3 linked regions of the Homo sapiens genome follow. The protein of the gene in region 1 interacts with the protein of each later gene in a pairwise test. Each region holds a gene or a part of one and is shown in the gene's direction. Other genes may lie near its edges.

The links. The genes of interacting proteins can lie anywhere in the genome.
Region 2: the proteins of ZCCHC10 (region 1) and ANKRD36B interact in binary tests that used the Homo sapiens proteins (3 or more experiments, as listed by UniProt).
Region 3: the proteins of ZCCHC10 (region 1) and PRR13 interact in binary tests that used the Homo sapiens proteins (3 or more experiments, as listed by UniProt).

What each region holds. Positions count from the first base shown.
Region 1 is NC_000005.10:133,016,530-133,023,553, reverse strand, and holds part of ZCCHC10 (zinc finger CCHC domain-containing protein 10), read left to right. Parts: intron 1-647; coding exon 648-713; coding exon of another isoform or gene 714-743; intron 744-7,024.
Region 2 is NC_000002.12:97,509,864-97,516,887, reverse strand, and holds part of ANKRD36B (ankyrin repeat domain-containing protein 36B), read left to right. Parts: exon of another isoform or gene 1-936; intron 937-942; coding exon 943-1,156; intron 1,157-3,524; coding exon 3,525-3,708; intron 3,709-4,835; coding exon 4,836-5,750; intron 5,751-7,024.
Region 3 is NC_000012.12:53,437,060-53,444,747, forward strand, and holds the start of PRR13 (proline-rich protein 13), read left to right. Parts: upstream 1-4,674; 5' UTR 4,675-4,733; intron 4,734-5,635; 5' UTR 5,636-5,655; coding exon 5,656-5,674; intron 5,675-6,331; coding exon 6,332-6,714; intron 6,715-7,688. UniProt on the Homo sapiens protein: Negatively regulates TSP1 expression at the level of transcription. This down-regulation was shown to reduce taxane-induced apoptosis.

The sequences.
Region 1 (7,024 bases):
ATCTGCCCACTTCAGCCTCCCAAAGTGCTGGGATTACAGGTGTGAGCCACCGCACCTGGCTTTATCGTTCTTTAAAAAAAAAAAAAAAAAAAGGTCTTTGGACTAATAGAAGAAGACGGGGAAAAAAGTCTAAATACGAACTCCTCATTCAGTAGATCTTTCGGAGACTTAACTAGTCAGTCTACTAAATCAATTGGAATGAAATAATTGATTTAATTATTTTTACCTTGTAAACTGTACTTACATCTACCTATATTAAGTAAATTATGGAGTCTAGGCATTATTTGGGGTCATTTCTTCTATTAAACCTTATATGAGATTCCACTACTCCTTCTTCAACATCCAGAGTCGTCATCAAACTTGGCTTGAAGACTTCCAGTAATGTGTACTTACCTCCTGAAGTGGCCTGTTGTGTTTTCAAATCTATCTAAAAGTTTATGTTGAGCTGAAAAACAATAATATTTATAAAGTTAAACCCCATTTCTTTCTTACTCCCTTGTTTTTGAACCTTGCTATGATTTCAGTCAGTTAAAAAACCTTGTTTTCTACCTGAATTGTCATCAAGTCAGACCTCCCCTGCCTTGTATTGATTTTCTGGACTTAAGTGTCAGACTTACCTTTGTCCTTGTTAAATTTCATCTTGTTAGATTCGACACAGAGTTGCAGCCTGTCAAGACCTTTTGGATCCTGATTCAGCCATCCATCGTTATTAGGTATCCCTCTCAGCTTTGTGTCAACTGCAGGTTTGATAAATATGTACATTTGTGTCCTCATACAAGGCATTTATAAAAATGTTGAACAAGGCCGGGGCGTGGTGGCTCATGCCTGTAATCCCAGCACTTTGGGAGGCTGAGGCAGGTGGATCACAAGGTCAAGAGATCGAGACCATCCTGGCCAACATGTTGAAACCCCATCTCTACAAAAATTACAAAAATTAGCTGGATGTGGTGGCATGCGCCTGTAGTCCCAACTACTCGGGAGGCTAGGCAGGAGAATTGCTTGAACCCGGGAGACGGAGGTTGCAGTGAGCCGAGATCTCGCCACTGCAGTCCAGCCTGGCGACAGACCGAGAGTCTGTCTCAAAAAAAAAAAAAAAGTTGAACAATACCAAACCATGCAGGCCATAACTGGATCTCTCTCTATATTGTCATGCACCACATAACAGATCCCATATATTAATTCTATGGTTGTCCCATAAGATTATAATGGAGCTAAAAAAATTTCTGTTGCCTAGTGACATCTTGATGATCCTGACCCTGTGTAGACCTAGGCTAATGTGTGTGTGTCTTAGTTTTTTACAAAAAAGTTTAAAAAGAAAAATAAATTTTAATAGAAAACAGCTTATAGAATGAAGATATAAAGAAAGAAAAAATTTTTGTACAGCTATAAATGTGTTTGTGTGTTAATGGTTATTACAAAAGAGTCAAAAAGTTTTAAACATTTATAAGTTATAAAGTAGGCCGGGTGCGGTGGCTCATGCCTGTAATCCCAGCACTTTGGGTGGCCCATGGTGGGTGGATGACCTGAGGTCCAGAGTTCAAGACCAGCTTGATCAACATGGTGAAACCCCATATCTACTAAAAATACAAAAAATTAGCCAGGTGTCGTGGCGGGCACCTGTAATTCCAGCTACTTGGGAGGCTGAGGCAGGAGAATCACTATAACCTGGGAGGCGGAGGTTGCAGTGAGCCGAGATCACACCATTGCACTCCAGCCTGGGTGACAGAGCAAGACTCTGTTTCAAAAAAAAAAAAGTTATAAAGTAAAATTGTAGTAAGCTAAGATTAATTTATTATTGAAATTTAAAAAAATTATAAATTTAGGGCAGCCTAATGTACAGTATTTATAAAGTCTATGGTAGTGTCATGATTACTGTAGCTTCATAATAAGTCTTGAATCCACGTGTTAGTCCTCTGATTTTGCTCTTTTTCAGAGTTATTTTGACTATTTTAGATTGTATTTCCAGATAAATTTTAAATTAGCTTACCAAAAGCTGCTGCGATTTCAGCTGGGATTGCATTGAGTGTACAGATCAACCTATGGAGAATTGACATCCTAACAGTATTGAGTTTTCTGATCCGTGCTTATGTATATCTCGCCATTTATTTAGGTCATCTTTAATTTCTCTTAGCAGTGTTTTGTAGTTTTCAGAGGTCTTGCACATCTTTTGTCAGATTTGTCCCTAAGTATTGTAATAGTGTTTTTTAAAAATTTTAGTTTCAAAAGGCTGGGCGCAGTAGCTCACGCCTGTAATCCCAGCACTTTGGGAGGCTGAGGTGGGCGGATCACAAGGTCAGGAGATCGAGACCATCCTGGCTAACACGGTGAAACCCTGTCTCTACTAAAAATACAAAAATTAGGCCGTGCGCGGTGGCTCACGCCTGTAATCCAGCACTTTGGGAGGCCGAGGCGGGCGGATCACGAGGTCAAAAGATCAAGACTATCCTGGCTAACACAGTGAAACCCCATCTCTACTAAAAATACAAAAAATTAGCCGGGCATGGTGGCGGGTGCCTGTAGTCCCAGCTACTCAGTAGGCTGAGGCAGGAGAATAGCGTGAAGCCGAGAGGCAGAGCTTGCAGTAAGCCGAGATTGCACCACTGCACTCCAGCCTGGGCGACAGAGCGAGACTTGTCTCAGAAAAAAAAAATAATAAATACAAAAAATTAGCCGGGCATGGTGGCGGGCGCTTGTAGTCCCAGCTACTCGGGAGGCTGAGGCAGGAGAATGGCATGAACCCGGGAGATGGAGCTTGCAGTGAGCCAATATTGCACCACTGCACTCCAGCCTGGGTGACAGAGTGAGACTCCGTCTCAAAAAAAAAAAAATTTTTAGTTTCAGTTGTTGCTGGTAGTCTTGTGTCTAATGATCTTATGTCCTCTGACCTTACTAATTTATTAGTTCTAATAGCTCTTTTTTTTTTTTTTTTTTAAAGACAGGCTTTTGCTTTGTCAGACAGGCTAGCGTGTAGTTGTATGATCATATCTCGTTGCAGCCTTGAACTCCTGGCTCAAATGATTCTCCCACCACAGCCTCCTGAGTAACTGAGACTACAGCTGCAACCCACTACATTCAGCAATTTTATTTTATTTTTTTATTTATATTTTTTTGAGACAGAGTCTTGCTCTGTGGCCCAGGCTGGAGTACAGTGGCGTGATCTCGGTTCCTTGCAGCCTCTGCCTCCCAGGCTCAAGTGATTCTCATGCCTCAGCCTCCCAAGTAGCTGGGATTACAGGCTAATTTTTGTATTTTCAGTGGAGTTGGGGTTTTGCTGTATTGGCCAGGCTGGTCTTGAACTCCTGGTATCAAGTGATCTGCCTTGGCCTTCCAAAGTGCTGGGATATTACAAGTGTGAACCACCGCTCCTGGCCACAATTTTATTTTTTGTACAGGCAGGGTGTCACTATGTTGCCCAGGCTTGTCTTGAACTCCTGGGCTCAAATGATCCTCCCACCTCTGTTTCCCAAAGTGCTGGGATTATAGGCATGAGCCACTGTGCCTGGCCTAGTTGCTCTATTGTTTGGATTCTTAGGTATTTTCTAGATAAATGATCATCTTTTATGTTCTCTTTTTGGTATGTACTTTTCTTTTTTTTTTTTTTTGAGCTGGAGTCTCACTGTGTCACCCAGGCTAGAGTGCAGAGGCACGATTTCAGCTCACTGCAACCTCTGCCTCTGGGATTCAAGCAATTCTCCTGTCTCAGCCTCCCAAGTAGCTAGGACTACAGATGCACCACCCCACGCAGCTAATTTTTTTATTTTTAGTAGAGACGGGTTTTACCATGTTGGCCAGGCTGGTCTTGAACTCCTGACCTCAAGTGATCCACCCGCCTTCGCCTCCCAAAGTGCTGGGATTACAGGTCTGAGTCACTGCACCCAGCTGGTATGCACATTTAAAATTTTTTTGTTGCATATTAACAAGTTGCCCTTTGAAAAATTTGTGCCACTTTACATTCTTACCAGCGGTGTCCATTTACAGAGTGGCTATTCCCTGCTTTTGCCAACAATAGGCATTAAAAAAACAACTTTGCCAATATGGCAAGTGTGTCCTAGTATTTTTGGTATCAAAGAACGTCATTTCACGTAAAAAGCCTGTACCGTTACAATACATCCCTCAGCCTTACCTTAGCAAATAGAAATGAAATATTGTTTGAATAGATAATTCATTTGGGTAGAAAGAAATGGTAATCTTGTTTGTTTCGAAATTTTGTTTGTCTAACTCAGCAATCTTTATGGAAAATTAGTATTTTTAGGGGTGATTTGTGAGTTGTGAGTGTTTAAAACATACATATAAAATATGTTAATCATACCTGGGCTTCATTTGTTTTCTCTCTCTGTTTTTTTTTTTTAGAGACAGTGTTGCCCAGGCTGGTCTCAAACTCCTGAGCTCGGGTGATCCTGCCTTGGCCTCTCAAAGTGCCAGGATTATAGGCGTGAGCCACTGCGTCCAGCCTCATACCTGAGCTTTAGATGATATTTGTGAATGTCGTATTTATAACAATAAAAAACAAACTCCAGAATGTCTGGTGGATATTTTTAATGACTAGGGTCCCAAGCTACCAGTTTCTCAATATGGAGAAAACAACCTATAAGCTTGGAAAAGAAGACTATGGACCCCCACCGCCAACACCCTCACATATTTTCATTTTTAGGGAAAATCGTGAAAGGCTTTGAAATGGACAGAAAGAAAAGACGATTACTGAGTGCTCTGTCTAGTCCAACCTTCCTGGCTATGTGACTCTATGAGGGCCTGCTTCTTTCATTGTCTTTGCACTGTTTCTCAAATCTTTAAGTCATAGGAAACTTACAGTATTGCAGAAGATTCTTGCCCATAAAAATGCAGCGCAGGCTGGACGTGGTGGCTCACGCCTGTAATCCCAGCACTTTGGGAGGCCAAGGTGGGCCGAGGCCAAGGATCACCTGAGGTCAGGAGTTCAAGACTAGCCTGGTTAACATGACGAAACCCTGTCTCTACTAAAAATACAAAAATTAGTAGGGCAGGGTGGCACACCCTGTAGTCCTAGCTACTTGGGAGGCTGAGGCACGAGAATCGTTTGAACCTGGGAGGCGGAGGTTGCAGTGAACCGAGATTGCGCCACTGTACTCCAGCCTGGACGACAGAGGAAGACTCCGTCTCAAAAAAAAGAGAGAGGCCAAGGAGGGAGGATTGCTTCAGCCCAGGAGTTTGAGACCTGATTGGGCAACATAGTGAGACCTTTTCTCTATTGTAATTAAAAAAAAAAAAAAATCAGCTTGCTGAAGATCATATAGCTATGTAGTAAAAGAGTAAAGATTTCTTTAAAACATTAAAGAAGTGCTGGGATTGCAGGTGTGAACCAACACACCTGGCCTTGGTTTGTTTACTATCTGTGCACTAGAGTTTAATTTTGTCTTTTTTTTTTTTTTTTTTGAGACAGATTCTCACTTTGTTGCCCAGACTGGAGTGCTGTGGTGCGATCTCGGCTCACTGCACCCTCCGCCTCCTGGTTTCAAGCAATTCATAGGCCTCAGCCTCCCACGCAGTTGGGACTACAGGCATGTGCCACAACACCCAGCTAATTTTTTGTATTTTTAGTAGAGACAGAGTTTTGCCATGTTGGCCAGGCTAGTCTCGAACTCCTGGCTTCAAGTGATCCACCCACCTGGCCTCCTAAAGTGTTGGGATTACAGGAGTGAGCTACCACACCTGGCTGTCTCTTTAAACTTTGTATAGAATCGTTCAATCGTTCAATTTGGATTGTTTTGAGTCTATCTTATATCTTATGTTAAATGAAGCTGTAATTTATTCTTTGTTATTACCATGAAGTATTCCTCTGTATTCTGTACCACAAACTTCTGTTCTACTTTCATATTATTTCCAATTTTGAGAATACTGCAAATCATGCTGCCAAGCACAGTGGCTCATGCCTACAATCCCAGCACTTTGGGATGCTGAGGTGGGAAGATTGCTTGAGGCCAGGAGTTTGAAACCAGCCTAGGAAACATAGTGAGACCCTATCTTTACAAAAACTAAAAATATTAGCCATGTGTGGTGGTGCGCACCTGTGGTCCCAGCTGCTTGAGAGGCTGAGGTGGAAGGATGGCTTGAGCTCAGGAGATTCAGGTTGCAGTGAGCCATGATCACATCATCACACTCCAGTCTGGGCAGCAGAGTCAGACACTGTCTCAAAAATGAAAAAAAAAAATCATGCTATGGACATTTTTATAGTTCTTCCTCTTCCCTTCCTGAACAATGCAATCCTAAAGGTATTGGGTAGAATAGAGCACACTAGGTGTCTATGCAGAGGGTCAACTTGGCTTTGAAATATTAGAGCTGAATGTGGGGTCAGGAGAGCACCTACAGAGGAGCTTGAACTGGCTTGTGATGTCAGCAGGTTGCAGAGGTCATCCAGTAGTGGGGAAGTCCAATGCAGGGTGTCAGATCCCAAGCTGGGTCAAAGGTGTCCACACGAGGCAGTTTAACAAAAGTTGTCTCCTCATGGAGAGAATATCCACACGAGGCAGTTTAACAAAAGTTGTTTCCTCATGGAGAGAATATCCACACAGGGTATGTGAGTAGGTATAATTTGGTATAGGGTACCAGAGCCTGTGTATAAAGAGAAATGTGTCTGGGGGGGGCCTGCCTGGCAATGGGAGTCGTGGGTGGGGGTGCAGGGCAGATTCCAAGTGAAGTTAAGAGGATATGGGGGAGGAGGCAGCAGTGGCAACAATGGGCAATTGGTTACATAAGGGGAATTGACCAAATAAGTAATCTATTAAGGATAGTGGGAGCCAGGTTTCTTCCTGAAGAAGGAAGTATAGAAGAGAAAAATAGCTGTGCGCGGTGGGTCACACCTATAATCCCAGCACTTTGGGAGGCTGAGGCGGGCAGATCACCTGAGGTCAGGAGTTCAAGACCAGCCTGGCCAATGTGGTGAAACCCCACCTCTACTAAAAATACAAAAATTAGCCGGGTGTGGTGGCAGGCGCCTGTAATCCCAGCTACTTGGGAGGCTGAGGCAAGAGAATCGATTGAACCCCGGAGG
Region 2 (7,024 bases), on another chromosome or scaffold:
CAGTCATTGTGTGAACCCCAGACATCGTTTCTGCTAATGTTCTTTAACTGTTGTTTTTTTTTATTTTATTTTTCATTGTTCTTAGGAAGTTTCCTAGTACACAAGCACTTTTCATTACTCCACTAAATACCCAAGAGGGAATCTCTGCACATCTCCAGGATTTGTTTCCTGTACTGCTTTTTTCTCTCCAGTTTTCTGTCCTGTGATCTCTATCTGCTTTGGTTTTACTGGCCTCTCAGCGTCATCACCCCAGCTCTATGTCAGATTTTCTCCCTTTGTGATGGCCTCGAACCTCCGTCAAAACTCTGTCAAAAGAGCTGGGATATTTGTAAGGCCTGCTGTATTTGTTTTCTGTCTTTCAGTGATCACCTACCATCTTCATTGCCTGAAGTCCACTGTGTTGAAAATCAGTTTAATGTATTGTGTCTGTTTTGTTTTTTATTCATTCAGATAAGATGAAAAATCAGTATCTGTTACTCCATCAGAGCTAGTAACAGATTGCAGCAGAGCTTCAGCACAGCACATGCTGCAAACTAGCCAGAGTGCTTTGCTTTCTTCTTTGCTTAACTGCTTCTTTCTCATCCTTCATTTCTCAGTGTAGCATCTCTTCCTCAGGGAAATCTTCCCTGGGTGAAGTATAGATCAAATTATCTTATGCAATCACATAACTATGTTTTTTTTTTTTTTTTTTTTTTACAGGACCTATCTGAGTTTATAACTGTCACCTTTTTATCTTGGTTCTTCACTATACTTTAAGCTAAAACAATAGCAGAGGTGTTGTCTTATCTGCAGACCTTACTATAATATCTTCCACCTTGTAGGCACTCAATATGTACATACTTGTTCAACGTATGAATGAATACATGTTAAAAATGCACAGTCCTTTATATCCAAAAATCTACTCATGTATTTTATCTCTAGTTTGTTTTTTCCTGGTTACAGATTGTGTTCACCTATTGAAAATTAAAAATACATTTTGTTTATGGAAAAGATTAATAAAACTTAAAGATAACCACTGTGAGCAACTTAGAGTAAAAATTCGAAAACTGAAAAATAAGGCTAGTGTACTACAAAAGAGAATATCTGAAAAAGAAGAAATAAAATCGCAGTTAAAGCATGAAATACTTGAATTGGAAAAAGAACTCTGTAGTTTGAGGTATGACCTAGTTTTAAATAAATGTTTGAACTGTTTGTTTTATATTAAAGACGTATAAGGAGAAGTTTTGTAATTGCGAACTTTCCTTCTAGGATTTAACAGGGAAGAAAGCTTCTTAATCTTATGGAGTGTGAAATTATTGGATATAATATCACAAGTTCTTAATTGTGAATACTTCTCTAATAATTAAATGCATATTCTTTTAAATCATAGTTTTAATGGCTGTATAGAATTTTACCTTTTGGAAATCTCATTATTTAATTGATGAATTGAATTTCAGGTTTTAAAAAGTTTTTGTAATAATGCTACAAGGAACATCTTTTATATACACATAGTTTTCTACATTTCTAATTATTTACATTGGATAAATTCTTCTGGTTAAAGTATAGAAACTTTTTTAGATCTGTTTTAGATCTGTGATCAATATTTCTAAATTGTTCTTAAGGATGTTCATATTAATTTATAATTCAACCAACAGAGTATAAAACAGATATTTTTCTTTACCCAGAATAATTATTTTAAAAATTATCAGCCGGGTGCAGTGGCTCATGCCTGTAATCCCAGCACTTTGGTAGGCCGAGGTGGGCAGATCACGAGGTCAGGAGTTCGAGACCAGTCTGCCCAACACAGTGAAATGCTATCTCTACTAAAAATACAAAAAATTAGCCAGGTATGGTGGTTGTACCTGTAATCCCAGCTACGCAGGAGGCTGAGGCAGGAGAATCACATGAAACTGGGAGGCAGAGGTTGCAGTGAGCAGAGATTGCACCAGTGCACTCCAGCCCAGTGATAGTAGGAGACTCCCTCTCAAAAAAAAAAAAAAAAAAATGTATCCAGTTTTATTCTTAATATGCAGGGAATAAAAAGTAAAATGTAAAGTGATTACTGATTAGCTTATTCAACATCTCTCTGCTATGTAGATAAAATTAATTCAGTTTTATGCTGAAGACATGTATTATTCTTTATTGTTTAATTAAATATTAGATCTTGTGTTGTTCCAAAACAGATTTTACAATTGGTTATAAAGTACATACTAATCAGCAGGATAGACTGAAAGTGTTACCCAAAAAACAATCTTAAAAAGTGTAGGGTAACATATTACATTCTTAACCTAGTCTTGGATTACAGTAATCTGCTGATATATGTTTCATAAAGACATCGAAAATGCTATCTTGCAATGTAAATTATGTTTAGGGATACTTGCAATGAATGTTTCATGAAGATGAAAATGTATTTCTAGTGAATGTACCAACTTGTTTATAAAAAGTAACTTTATGTTAATTAACTCTAAATGATTCATCCTAATTGAGGAGTAATTACTGTGAAGAAAAGATAATTTTTATCTTGTAACTTTACTGAATAATTTTCAACGTCCTTTTTCATAATATTTGCTAGAGTTACTAGTAATAGAAACTTATGCAGGATGTTCTTTTATCAATACATTTCAACTTATACATGCCCTTTGGATGAGATTGAGGTGAGAAATTAAAAACATGAGAACTAGAAAGAAAAATAGTATTTAAGAACATAGAAACTTTATTAGGATAATAAACCAACATATGAATGTTTTATTTTCTAATATCAACAAAGAGAGTCAAACTCTGTAAGATATTTGAAGACATTTATTCTGAGCCAAATATGAGTGACCGTGGCCCCCGACACAGCCCTCAGGAGGTCCTGAGAACATGTGCCCGAAGTGGTCGGGGTGCAGCTTGGTTTTATACATTTTAGAGAAGCATGAGACAGCAATCAAATACATGTAAGAAATACATTGATTTGGTTCAGAAAGGCAGGCCAACTCAAAGCTGGGGCTTCCAGGCTGTAGGTAAATTTAAACATTTTCTGGTTGACAATTGCTTGAGTTTATTTGAAGACCTGGGATTAATGGAAAGAAATGTTCAGGTTAAGATAAATGATTGTGGGGACCAAGTTTTACTGTGCAGAGGAATCTCTCAGCAGACTTCAGAGAGAGCAGATTGTAAAATGTTTCTTATCGGACCCAAAAGGGTGCCTGGCTCTCAGCTGAATATCCCCTGGATCTGCATAGAAAGGAAGGAAAACAAAGGGGAAAGGGGGTTCTCTATAGAATGTGGATTTTTCCCACAAGAGACTTTGCAGGGCAATTTCAAGGCATGGCAAGGAAATATATTTTGGATTAAATATTTTCTTCCTTGTCTCGTAAGGTTATGCCAGAGTCAGATTGAAAAGCAAGTCACAATATACAGGGTCAAATAAAACCCATCTGATGAGAATCCATGGTTTGTAGGGCACGACTCCCTGGACCCCTTAGGTAGGAATTTGGGCAAGATAAAAAATTAGAGCTTAGTCCTCACTGATAAGATAAATTCTAAGATAAGTATATTTACAGATTTGCCATACAGCAAGAAAAAAAGAAAAGAAGAAATGTTGAAGAGTTGCACCAAAAAGTTAGGGAAAAGTTAAGAATAACAGAAGAGCAATATAGGATAGAAGCTGATGTGACAAAACCAATTAAACCGGCTCTCAAATCAGCAGAGGTGGAATTGAAGACAGGAGGAAATAATTCAAATCAGGTAAATTAATGTTTGGTAAAACTTCATATTTCTACTCTTATTAATATTACTTATACCATCTCTTTCATTTAACATATATTATTTAGGCCTGAACAATCCCCAAATTTTATTTCATCTTAAAAATGAATCATGGCATTTATAGCTATAATTATTTATAATAAATCTTGAAATATTTTATTTTAGTTCAAAGGCCTTTTGAAAACAATGCTATTCTACAATATATACTTAATGATATTGTAAGTATTTTGTTCCTAGTGACATAGTTCAGCATATTTCCCCTATTTCATGTTAATTACATTTCAAATGTTATGGAAAAGGAATAAAAGTTATCACAATAGCAAATAATGTCATGATTTTCTAAGAAGAGTTTTATAGATCTAATTTTCTTGACTTTTGGTGTCTTGAAATAAAAGATTATTTTTGTATGTATATATCTACCTCACAGAAGTTACTGATTTGGTGGAAGAGCACTAGGAATAGAGTCAGAAAAGCTGGGAAAAATCCTGCAGCTTGCTTATATTTTTAACCTTTTGCTATAGAATTATAACTAAATGAGTTCATTGATTTGTGCACGTAAAAGTGCTTAGTATAATGCCTAGCTTTATCATTTATCAATAAATGTCATTCTTAAAACTGACCATAACAATATTAGAAAAGTAGAATATCTATACAATATTTTAGAAAAAGGGAACTTAAAGAATTTGGAAAATGTCATTCATCTGTCCAAATATCTGCCAAGCTAAGGCTCTCACTATAGGGAGAGGTATAGTTTAGATGTTAGAGTGTAAACCCAATTTTTTAATGTGGTCATAGTTATTAATTCTTTATGCCTTGCAATTTGTTGTAATTCAGTAAAAGCCTTTTTTTATCCTGAAATTTAAAAAAATTATCTAGTGGCTTCTTTTTTGCTTTCATGGATTCACTGTCTTCAAATAAACTTTTGAACTTTGGGGAATTTATGCTGTATGAGGTTTGAGGTTTTGACTTAACTTCTTTTTTCCCAGTTAGATATCCAGTTATGGCAACCTCTCATTGTATAAATGTACGGGTTATTATTTAATTTCAGAAGCAATCACAATATGTTATCCTATTGGATACTAGTTACAAGTTTGCTTTGTTTTACTTAGGTTTCTGAAACTGATGAAAAAGAAGACCTGCTGCATGAAAACCGCTTGATGCAAGATGAAATTGCCAGGCTCAGGCTGGAAAAAGACACAATAAAAAACCAAAACCTGGAAAAGAAATACTTAAAAGACTTTGAAATTGTGAAAAGAAAGCATGAAGACCTTCAAAAGGCTCTAAAACGGAATGGGGAAACATTAGCAAAAACGATAGCCTGTTATAGTGGACAGCTTGCTGCTCTGACAGATGAAAACACAACGCTCCGTTCCAAACTGGAGAAGCAAAGAGAGAGCAGGCAAAGACTGGAAACAGAAATGCAATCATACCGTTGTAGACTGAATGCTGCTCGATGTGATCATGATCAAAGTCACTCATCAAAAAGAGACCAAGAGCTTGCTTTCCAGGGCACAGTAGATAAATGTCGTCACTTACAGGAAAATTTGAATTCTCATGTTCTGATTCTTTCTCTGCAACTTTCTAAAGCTGAGAGTAAGTCCAGAGTCCTCAAAACTGAGCTCCATTACACAGGAGAGGCTCTGAAAGAAAAGGCTTTGGTTTTTGAACACGTGCAAAGTGAGCTAAAGCAAAAACAGAGTCAAATGAAGGACATTGAAAAAATGTACAAAAGTGGATACAATACAATGGAAAAATGCATAGAAAAACAGGAAAGATTTTGTCAACTAAAAAAACAAAATATGTTGCTTCAACAGCAACTGGATGATGCTCGCAACAAAGCTGACAATCAAGAAAAAGCAATACTTAATATTCAAGCCAGATGTGATGCTAGAGTACAAAACCTTCAAGCTGAGTGCAGAAAGCACCGTCTTTTACTAGAAGAAGACAATAAAATGTTGGTCAATGAACTGAATCATTCGAAAGAAAAAGAATGCCAATATGAAAAAGAGAAAGCAGAAAGAGAAGTAAGTATCAAGAAAAATAAGTATTTTTCAAACTTCCTGAAGTAAAATTTAAAGTAATATTTGGTTACAGCTGAATGTTGGATCTAGTTGAATATAAAAAAGGATACATATGATAAATATATCTGCTTAGAAACATTCCTTGTCTCCAGCAAGTCAAAGTTAGAACTGAGAGATGCTTTCCTCTGATTAAAGTCAATGTGTCGCTTATAAAATTTTAAGTTATAAAATGTTAACATAGACTAACATTAATAATGTAGTCTTATACTGCTGAAGTAATAATTTTAATGTATTTATGTTGCAACATTTTAAGACCATGATAAATCAGGTATATGGAAATGCTCATACCTAAAATGGTATTTTGAAATTGATTCAATTAAGTGGGGTACTTTGACAGTGAATTTCAGATTTCCTAGATGAACTGAAGTGTATTCCCTATTTCATAATTACTTTTCTTCAGTAGCTTTAAATATGTCTTAGTTGGTAAAATTTTGTTTTTCTTCATGTCAATTTGACTTAAATCTGAAACTATTTCAATCTCAAATTATGTATAGATATGACCATTCTATTCTTTCAAGGCATCTAATTTTACTTCTATTATAATATGGGGCAAATGCAGTAAATTTTAGCCAAATCATGTTTGATTTAATCTTCCCACTGGCATTTATAATTTACTTTCAGTTTTTAAATAAAAAATTTGTTCATAATTTTTATTTCAAGGCTCAATTACTATCATTTGGATATAACTTTGTCCAGGACAAAGAGAGGCATAGCTATCTGTGATTTATTAGTTTGACACTGGATCCCCATTTTCAGACTAAGGAGGATTTCAGACTAACGAGGAGTGGCAGGATTCACGTAGAGTAGGAATGGAGTGAGTACGGAGGAGAGATATAGCAGCTGAGTCAGGGCGGGAGGTGGAGGGCGGGTTACTTAGAGCATCTAAGGCCACTGGAATTTTACTTTTCTTCTGAGATAGACATCTATTGGAAGGATTTAAGCAGATGATTTAATGTGAGGAACTCTGAGGTTGATTTGAGTTTCTAATTTAAAAAAAGAGGGAAATCATTCCACAATGTATAATTTACTACCATCAGTCTCACCCACATACTCATTTCTTTTTGAGACTTCAGAAGGTTTTTAAGCATTGCAGATTCATCAAGGGAGGAATGACTAGTGGGCTGAATATGTTGTGTGAATAACAATACCAGTTTGGCAGGAAGATAACACCTTCTGTATCCTTAACTGGATTCAGTAATACACAGGAATGTGTACAC
Region 3 (7,688 bases), on another chromosome or scaffold:
CCAGGCTCCAGTGATCCTACCACCCCAGCCTCGTAAGTAGCTGGGATTATGGGCGCACACAACCATGCCCAGCTAATTTTTCTATTTTTTGTAGAGACAAGATTTCACCATGTTGGCCAGGATGGTCTCGAACTCCTGAGCTCAAGGGAATCCACCAGTCTCAGCCTCCCAAAGTGCTGGGATTACAGGCATGAGCCACCCCACTCAGTCAAAAGATAGTCTTGTTATGTAAGATACTATCACTGGGGGAAGCTGGGTAAATTTTACAACTTCTTGTGAGTCTAAAATTATTTCAGAATAAAAGAACACTGTCTAGGCAATACCACTCAGGACATAGGCATGGGCAAAGATTTCATGATGGGATCACCAAAAGCAATCGCAATAAAAGCAAAAATTGACAAATGTGATCTAATTAAACTAAAGAGCTTCTGCACAGCAAAAGAAACTATCATCAGAACAAACAGGCAACCTACAGAATGGGAGAAAATTTTTGTGATCTGCCAAAGTGTCTAATATCCAGAATCTAGAAGAAACTCAAACAAATTTACGAGAAAAAAACAACCCCATTAAAAAGTGGGCAACGGCCAGCCTCCCCGTCCGGGAGGGAGGTGGGGGGCGGCCCCCGCCCGGCCAGCCGCCCCGTCCGGGAGGTGGGGGGTGCCTCTGCCCGGCCGCCCCTTCTGGGAAGTGAGGAGCCCCTCTGCCCTGCCGCCACCCCGTCCGGGAGGTGTACCCAACAGCTGATTGAGAACGGGCCATGATGACGATGGCGGTTTTGTCGAATAGAAAAGGGGGAAATGTGGGGAAAAGATACAGAAATCAGATTGTTGCTGTGTCTGTGTAGAAAGAAGTAGACATAGGAGACTCCATTTTGTTCTGTACTAAGAAAAATTCTTCTGCCTTGGGATGCTGTTGATCTATGACCTTACCCCCAACCCGGTGCTCTCTGAATCATGTGCTGTGTCCACTCAGGGTTAAATGGATTAAGGGCGGTGCAAGATGTGTTTTGTTAAACAGATGCTTGAAGGCAGCATGCTCGTTAAGAGTCATCACCACTCCCTAATCTCAAGTACCCAGGGACACAAACACTGGGGAAGGCCGCAGGGTCCTCTGCCTAGGAAAACCAGAGACCTTTGTTCACTTGTTTATCTGCTGACCTTCCCTCCACTATTGTCCTATGACCCTGCCAAATCCCCCTCTGCGAGAAACACCCAAGAATGATCAATTAAAAAAAAAAAAAAAAAAGAGATAGGAAAAAAAAAAAAAAAGTGGGCAAAAGGCCAGGTGCGGTGGCTCACGCCTATAATCCCAGCACTTTGGGGGGCCGAGGCGGGCGGATCACGAGGTCAGGAGATCAAGATCATCCTGGCTAAGAGGGTGAAACCCCGTCTCTACTAAAAATATAAAAAATTAGCCAGGCACGGTGGCGGGTGCCTGTAGTCCCAGCTACTCGGGAGGCTGAGGCAGGAGAATGGTGCGAACCTGGGAGGCGGAGCTTGCAGTGAGCCAAGATCGTGCCACTGCACTCCAGCCTGGACAACGGGGCCAGGGCGAGACTCCGTCTCAAAAAAAAAAGGGGGGGGCAAAGGACATTAACAGACATTTCTCAAAAGAAGATATGCAGCCGGCCGGGCGCGGTGGCTCACGCCTGTAATCCCAGCACTTTGGGAGGCCGAGGCGGGCGGATCACGAGGTCAGGAGATCGAGACCATCCCGGCTAAAACGGTGAAACCCCGTCTCTACTAAAAAATACAAAAAATTAGCCGGGCGTAGTGGCGGGCGCCTGTAGTCCCAGCTACTTGGGAGGCTGAGGCAGGAGAATGGCGTGAACCCGGGAGGCGGAGCTTGCAGTGAGCCGAGATCCCGCCACTGCACTCCAGCCCGGGCGACAGAGAGAGACTCCGTCTCAAAAAAAAAAAAAAAAAAAAAAAAAAAGAAGATATGCAGCCAACAAACATGAAAAAAAGCTCAACATCACTGAACATTAGAGAAATGTAAATCAAAACCATAATGAGATACTATCTCATGCCAGTCAGAATGGTGATTATTAAAAAGTCAAGAAATAACAGGCCAGGCCTGGTGGCTCATGCCTGTAACCCTAGCACTTTGGGAGGCCAAGGGTGAGTGAATCACTTGAGGTCAGGAGTTTGAAACCACCCTGGCCAGCATGGTGAAACCCTGTTTCTACTAAAAATACAAATATATATATGTATATATATATGGCAGGTGTGGCGGCAGGCACCTGTAATTCTAGCTACTCGGGAGGCTGAGGCAGGAGAATCGCTTGAACCCGGGAGGCAGAGGTTGCAGTGAGCTGAGATCCTGCCACTGCACTTCAGCCTGGGCGACAGAGCAAGACTCAGTCTCAAAAAAAAAAAAAAACCCAAAACCAAAATCCAGATGCTGGCAAGGTTGTGGAGAAATAGGAACATTTTTACACTGTTGGTGGGAGTGTAAATTAGTTCAACCATTGTGGAAGACGATGTGGCGATTCCTCAAAGATCTAGAACCAGAAATACCATTTGACCCAGCAATCTCATTACTGGGTGTATACCCAAAGGAATATAAATCATTCTATTACAAACATACATGCATGTGTATGTTCACTGTAGCACTATTCACAATAGCAAAGACATGGAATTAATCCAAATGCCCATCAACAATAGACTGAAAAACTGTGGTACATATATACCATGGAATACTATGTAGCCATAAAAAGGAATGAGATCATGTCCTTTATAGGGACATGGATGAAGCTGGAAGCCATTAACCTCAGCAAACTCATGCAGGAACATGTTCTCACTCAAGTGGGAGCTACACAGTAAGAACACATGGACACAAGGAGGGGAACAACACACACTGGGGCCTGTTGGGGGGTAGGGTCAGGGGAGTGAGAATATTAGGAAAAATAGCTAATGCATGCTGGGCTTAATACCTAGCTGATGGGTTTATTGGTGCAGCAAAATTTGTGCAGCAAACCAGCATGGCACACATTTAACTATGTAACAAACCTGCACATCATGCACATGTACCCCAGCACTAAAAATAAAAATTAAAAGAAAAAAAGTTTAAAATATTTCAAATGCTTTAGTTTAATATGACATATTTGGCATAAAATTTATTGTCTTAAATTTTTTTGTATCCCACTTTTTTTTTTTTTTTTTTTTGAAACAGAGTCCTGCTCTGTTGCTTAGTCTGGAGTGCAGTGGCATGATCTTGGCTCACTGCACCCTCTCCCTCCCAGGTTCAAGCGATTCTCATGCCTCAGCCTTCCCACTAGCTGGGATTACAGGTATGTGCCACCATGCCTAGCTCACTTTCTTTCTTTCTTTCTTTCTTTTTTTTTTTGAGATGGAGTCTCGCTCTGTTGCCCAGGCTGGAGTGCTATGGCGTGATCTCGGTTCACTGCAACCTCCCGGGTTCAAGCGATTCTCCTGCCTCAGCCTCTCAAGTGGCTGGGATTACAGGCACATGTCACCACGCCCGGCTAATTTTTGTATTTTTAGTAGAAACGGGGTTTTACCATATTGGCCAGGCTGGTCTCGAACTCCTGACCTTGTGATCCGCCTGCCTCGGCCTCCCAAAGTGCTGGGATTACAGGCGTGAGCCACTGCGCCCGGCCACTTGTATTTTTTTTTTTTTTTTAAAGGCTGGGTACGGTGGCTCACGCCTATAATCCCAGCACTTTGGGAGGCCGAGGCGGGCAGATCACGAAGTCAAGAGAGCGAGACCATCCTGGCCAACATGGTGAAATCCCATCTCTACTAAAAAATAGAAAAATTAGCCGCGTCTGTAGTCCCAGCTACTTCGGAGGCTGAGGCAGGATTATCGCTTGAACCCGGGAAGCGGAGGTTGCAGTGAGCCGAGGTCGCACCACTGCACTCCAGCCTCGTGACAGAGCGAGACTCCGTCTCAAAAAAAAAAAAAAAAAAAAAAAGGGAGGCCATTGTAGGGAGGCCATTGTAGCAATTCAGGGGAGAGATGAATCCAGGCGACAGATGATGGGAGGTTTGGAGCAGGGAAGACAGAGAGAAGTGGAGAGATTCCAGATATATTTGAGAGACAAAACTGATAATTTGGGGTAAGGGAGGTGAAGGAGGCAGAGGGATCACGGACGCCCTCCTTGGTTTCTGGTTTAGGCTACTTGACAGATGGCGGAGCTATGCAATTGAGAGAGGGAATCCTGGGAGAGATTATGAAATCTCTGTATCTTCCGCAAGAATGTTTGTTTGCTTCCCTTGCGAGTGTAAGACGGAGCCGGGAACATTGAGGCTTGGGGCTGGGACTCAGCAGCTCTTCTGCCCTTGCCGAGAACTCTGTCTATATCTGTATTACAACACTTACCATAGTGTATTCATTTTACAAGGTATTGCACCCAGTGAACCATGAGGTAAGAGAGCAAGGGAAGAGTTTCTTCTCGGTGTCTCTAGGACTTTGCCCAGCAGCTGGCCCCGCCCCCTCCAGCGCTCTCCGCCTAGCCCCGCCCCCAGGAGATTTCCGGCTTCTCGGTACTGGCCTAGCCGTAAAGGGCTCCGCTCCGCCCCTAGAGCAACCGTTTCCTCCTCAGTCGGACCAGAGTGATTGATTAGTTTGTTGTCTAATCATCAGTCGAGCGGCCACATAATTACCAATTAGGCAGTAGCAGAGGCGGGTGCCGAAGCACGGGGTCTGGGTGACTAGGAAGAGCCGAGACTGCGAAGGAGAACGCAGCAAGCCCAGGCGGCGGTGGAAAGGTGATGGGGTATCTGGATTCCATAGGTTTTTCCTTTTCCCCTTGCTAGGTCAAGAGTCTCTTCGCAGCTTGGGGCTAGGATCTTCATTTGCCTTTTTTCTTTTTTGGAGGAAGGGGGCTGTGTCCACATATTTAAGTATTTGAGGTTCTTGGGCAACTTCCTTCTTACTTCGCCTCGAGGCGTATCCTTTTTTTAGCCTGAGGTGGGGTCCTCCCCAGGGAGAGAGAAAGTTGTTTGAGATCCTTTCTTACTCTGTGCGTGGTTAAAGGCCTCCGTACTCAGTTCCAGGGAAAGGGAGATGAGTGATGGTGGGGCCGAGACTCGCGGGTACTGCCTACTTCCGAAGAGTTAGACGCTTCCACCTGGGTGGAGGGGCCCTGGGAACTAGATTCCTGTGTTAGGAACCAAGTAGGTATTGAGGGCGAAGAAACAAGTGGAAAGAGACATTTCTTTTCTTTTCTTTTCTTTTTGAGACGGTGTCTTGCTCCGTCGCCCAGGCTAGAGTGCAGTGGCGCGGTCTCGGCTCACTGCAACCTCTGCCTCCCGGGTTCAAGCAATTTTCCTGACTCAGCCTCCCGAATAACTGGGATTACAGGTGCCCGCCACCGCGCCCGGCTAATTTTTAGATTTTTAGTAGAGACGGGGTTTCACGATGTTGGCCAGGCTGGTCTCGAACTCTTGACCTCGTGATCCACCCGCCTCGGCCTCCCAAAGTGCTGGGATTACAGGCGTGAGCCACCGCGCCCAGCCAGAAAAGAGACATTTCTTATGTGGAAGTTGTGGTAGTTCTCCAGGTAGGAGAGCCTACTGTGGGGTGGAAGACGTTAGGGCTGGGCTCCGGTGCTAAGTCCACTTCCTACCTCTAGACCGTCATCTTTTTTGCCTCATTTCTTTCTCCTCAGGCTGGAGGACACACCTAAACATGTGGAATCCCAATGCCGGTAGGTGTTTGGGGGTTCTGTTCCACCCCTAACCCTTTTTCTGATGGGCTCTATAACAGGAAGTTTCTGTATCAGCTCCCCTACCCCCGACCTGCTGTACCCGCAAAAGCAAAGTCCTTAGTCTAGAGCTGACCAGTGCTTTTTAATTTAATTTAATTTATTTATTTTTTGAGATGGAGTCTCTGTTGCCCAGGCTCACTGCAACCTCCGCCTCCTGGGTTCAAGCGATTCTCCTGTTTCAGCCTCTGGAGTAGCTGAGATTACAGACGCATGCTATCACGCCCGGCTACTTTTTGTATTTTTAGTAGAGATGGGGGTTTCACAATTTGGCCAGGCTGGTCTCAAACTCATGGCCTCATGAGATCTGTCCACCTCGGCCTCCCAAAGTGCTGGGATTACAGGCGTGAGCCACCGCGCCTGGACTGACCAGTGCTTTTGTCTTCCTCAGAGTTCACTGTCTCCCTCCTCTCCCTAGCCCTTCCAGGGACATTCCCCCTTTTCTCCCCAACTCAAGTTTGTCTCCCCTACCCTCCATTCTTCTTTGTCATCTTTCCGTTTCCCTTTAAGTATTGAGTGAGAAAGAATCTCTTTCTTTTTGTTGTTTGTTGTTGGAGACTCTGGGGAATTCTAATGTTTATTCTCTGCTTCTTCCACCAGGGCAGCCAGGGCCAAATCCATATCCCCCCAATATTGGGTGCCCTGGAGGTTCCAATCCTGCCCACCCACCACCTATTAATCCACCCTTTCCCCCAGGCCCCTGTCCTCCTCCCCCAGGAGCTCCCCATGGCAATCCAGCTTTCCCCCCAGGTGGGCCCCCTCATCCTGTGCCACAGCCAGGGTATCCAGGATGCCAACCGTTGGGTCCCTACCCTCCTCCATACCCACCGCCTGCCCCTGGAATCCCTCCTGTGAATCCCTTGGCTCCTGGCATGGTTGGACCAGCAGTGATAGTAGACAAGAAGATGCAGAAGAAAATGAAGAAAGCTCATAAAAAGATGCACAAGCACCAAAAGCACCACAAGTACCACAAGCATGGCAAGGTCAGTACCCTCTGGAGACTGGCTAGGGAAGGAGTCCCCCCTCAGAGGGACTAGGTAGGCAGGGGTTGGGTGAGGGGGATTCACATTCTGTGGACGTGAGGGATGACAATTGTGTCGCTCTGGTAGATGATTCTTCCTTTTTATAAAAGATTGCTACTGGGAAGAATCTGATTATCTTGAAAATAAACATCAGGCTTCTCCTATCTGGGGGGAGTTAGGGTGAGCCTTAGAATGGATTTTAGAATCAAAAGCCAAATCTTTTCTGCCCTACTCTCCCAGAACTTTTGCTCCCCTCCCGCCAGGTGCATATTCTAGCAAGTTGGACACGCCCACTGACATTGTCAAAATACCAAAGTCATTCCTTTGACAAAGCAAGGTCTTATAATAATTAACAGAATTAATCTGTCCCTAGTTCCAGAAGTTCCTTCTCTCTTTCATCAGTGTTCTTAGGGCGTTGTGTTAATTACATGGGTCCTTTGCCCTATCATCCAGCAGAAAAAGTGAGGACAAGAGCAGTCAGTGACTAGGCTTCTAACAAAGCCTAGGACTAAGGAGGTTTTTTTTTTTTTTTTTTGAGACGGAGTCCCGCTCTTTAGCCCAGGCCAGATTGCAGTGGCACAATCTCGGCTCACTGCAAGCTCCGCCTCCCAGGTTCACGCCATTCTCCTGCCTCAGCCTCCCGAGTAGCTGGGACTACAGGCGCCCGCCACCGCGCCCGGCTAATTCTTTGTATTTTTAGTAGAGATGGGGTTTCACCGTGTTAGCCAAGATGGTCTCGATCTCCTGACCTTGTGATCCGCCCGCCTTGGCCTCCCAAAGTGCTGGGATTACAGGCGTGAGCCACTGCACCCAGCCCTAAGGAGGTTTTATACTCAGCTCCAAGGCTAAGTATCTTTGTTTTAGAGGAGTGTTAAAAATTGGTAAGGGTGGCCAGGTGCCATGGCTCATGCCTGTAATCCTAGCACTTGGGAATT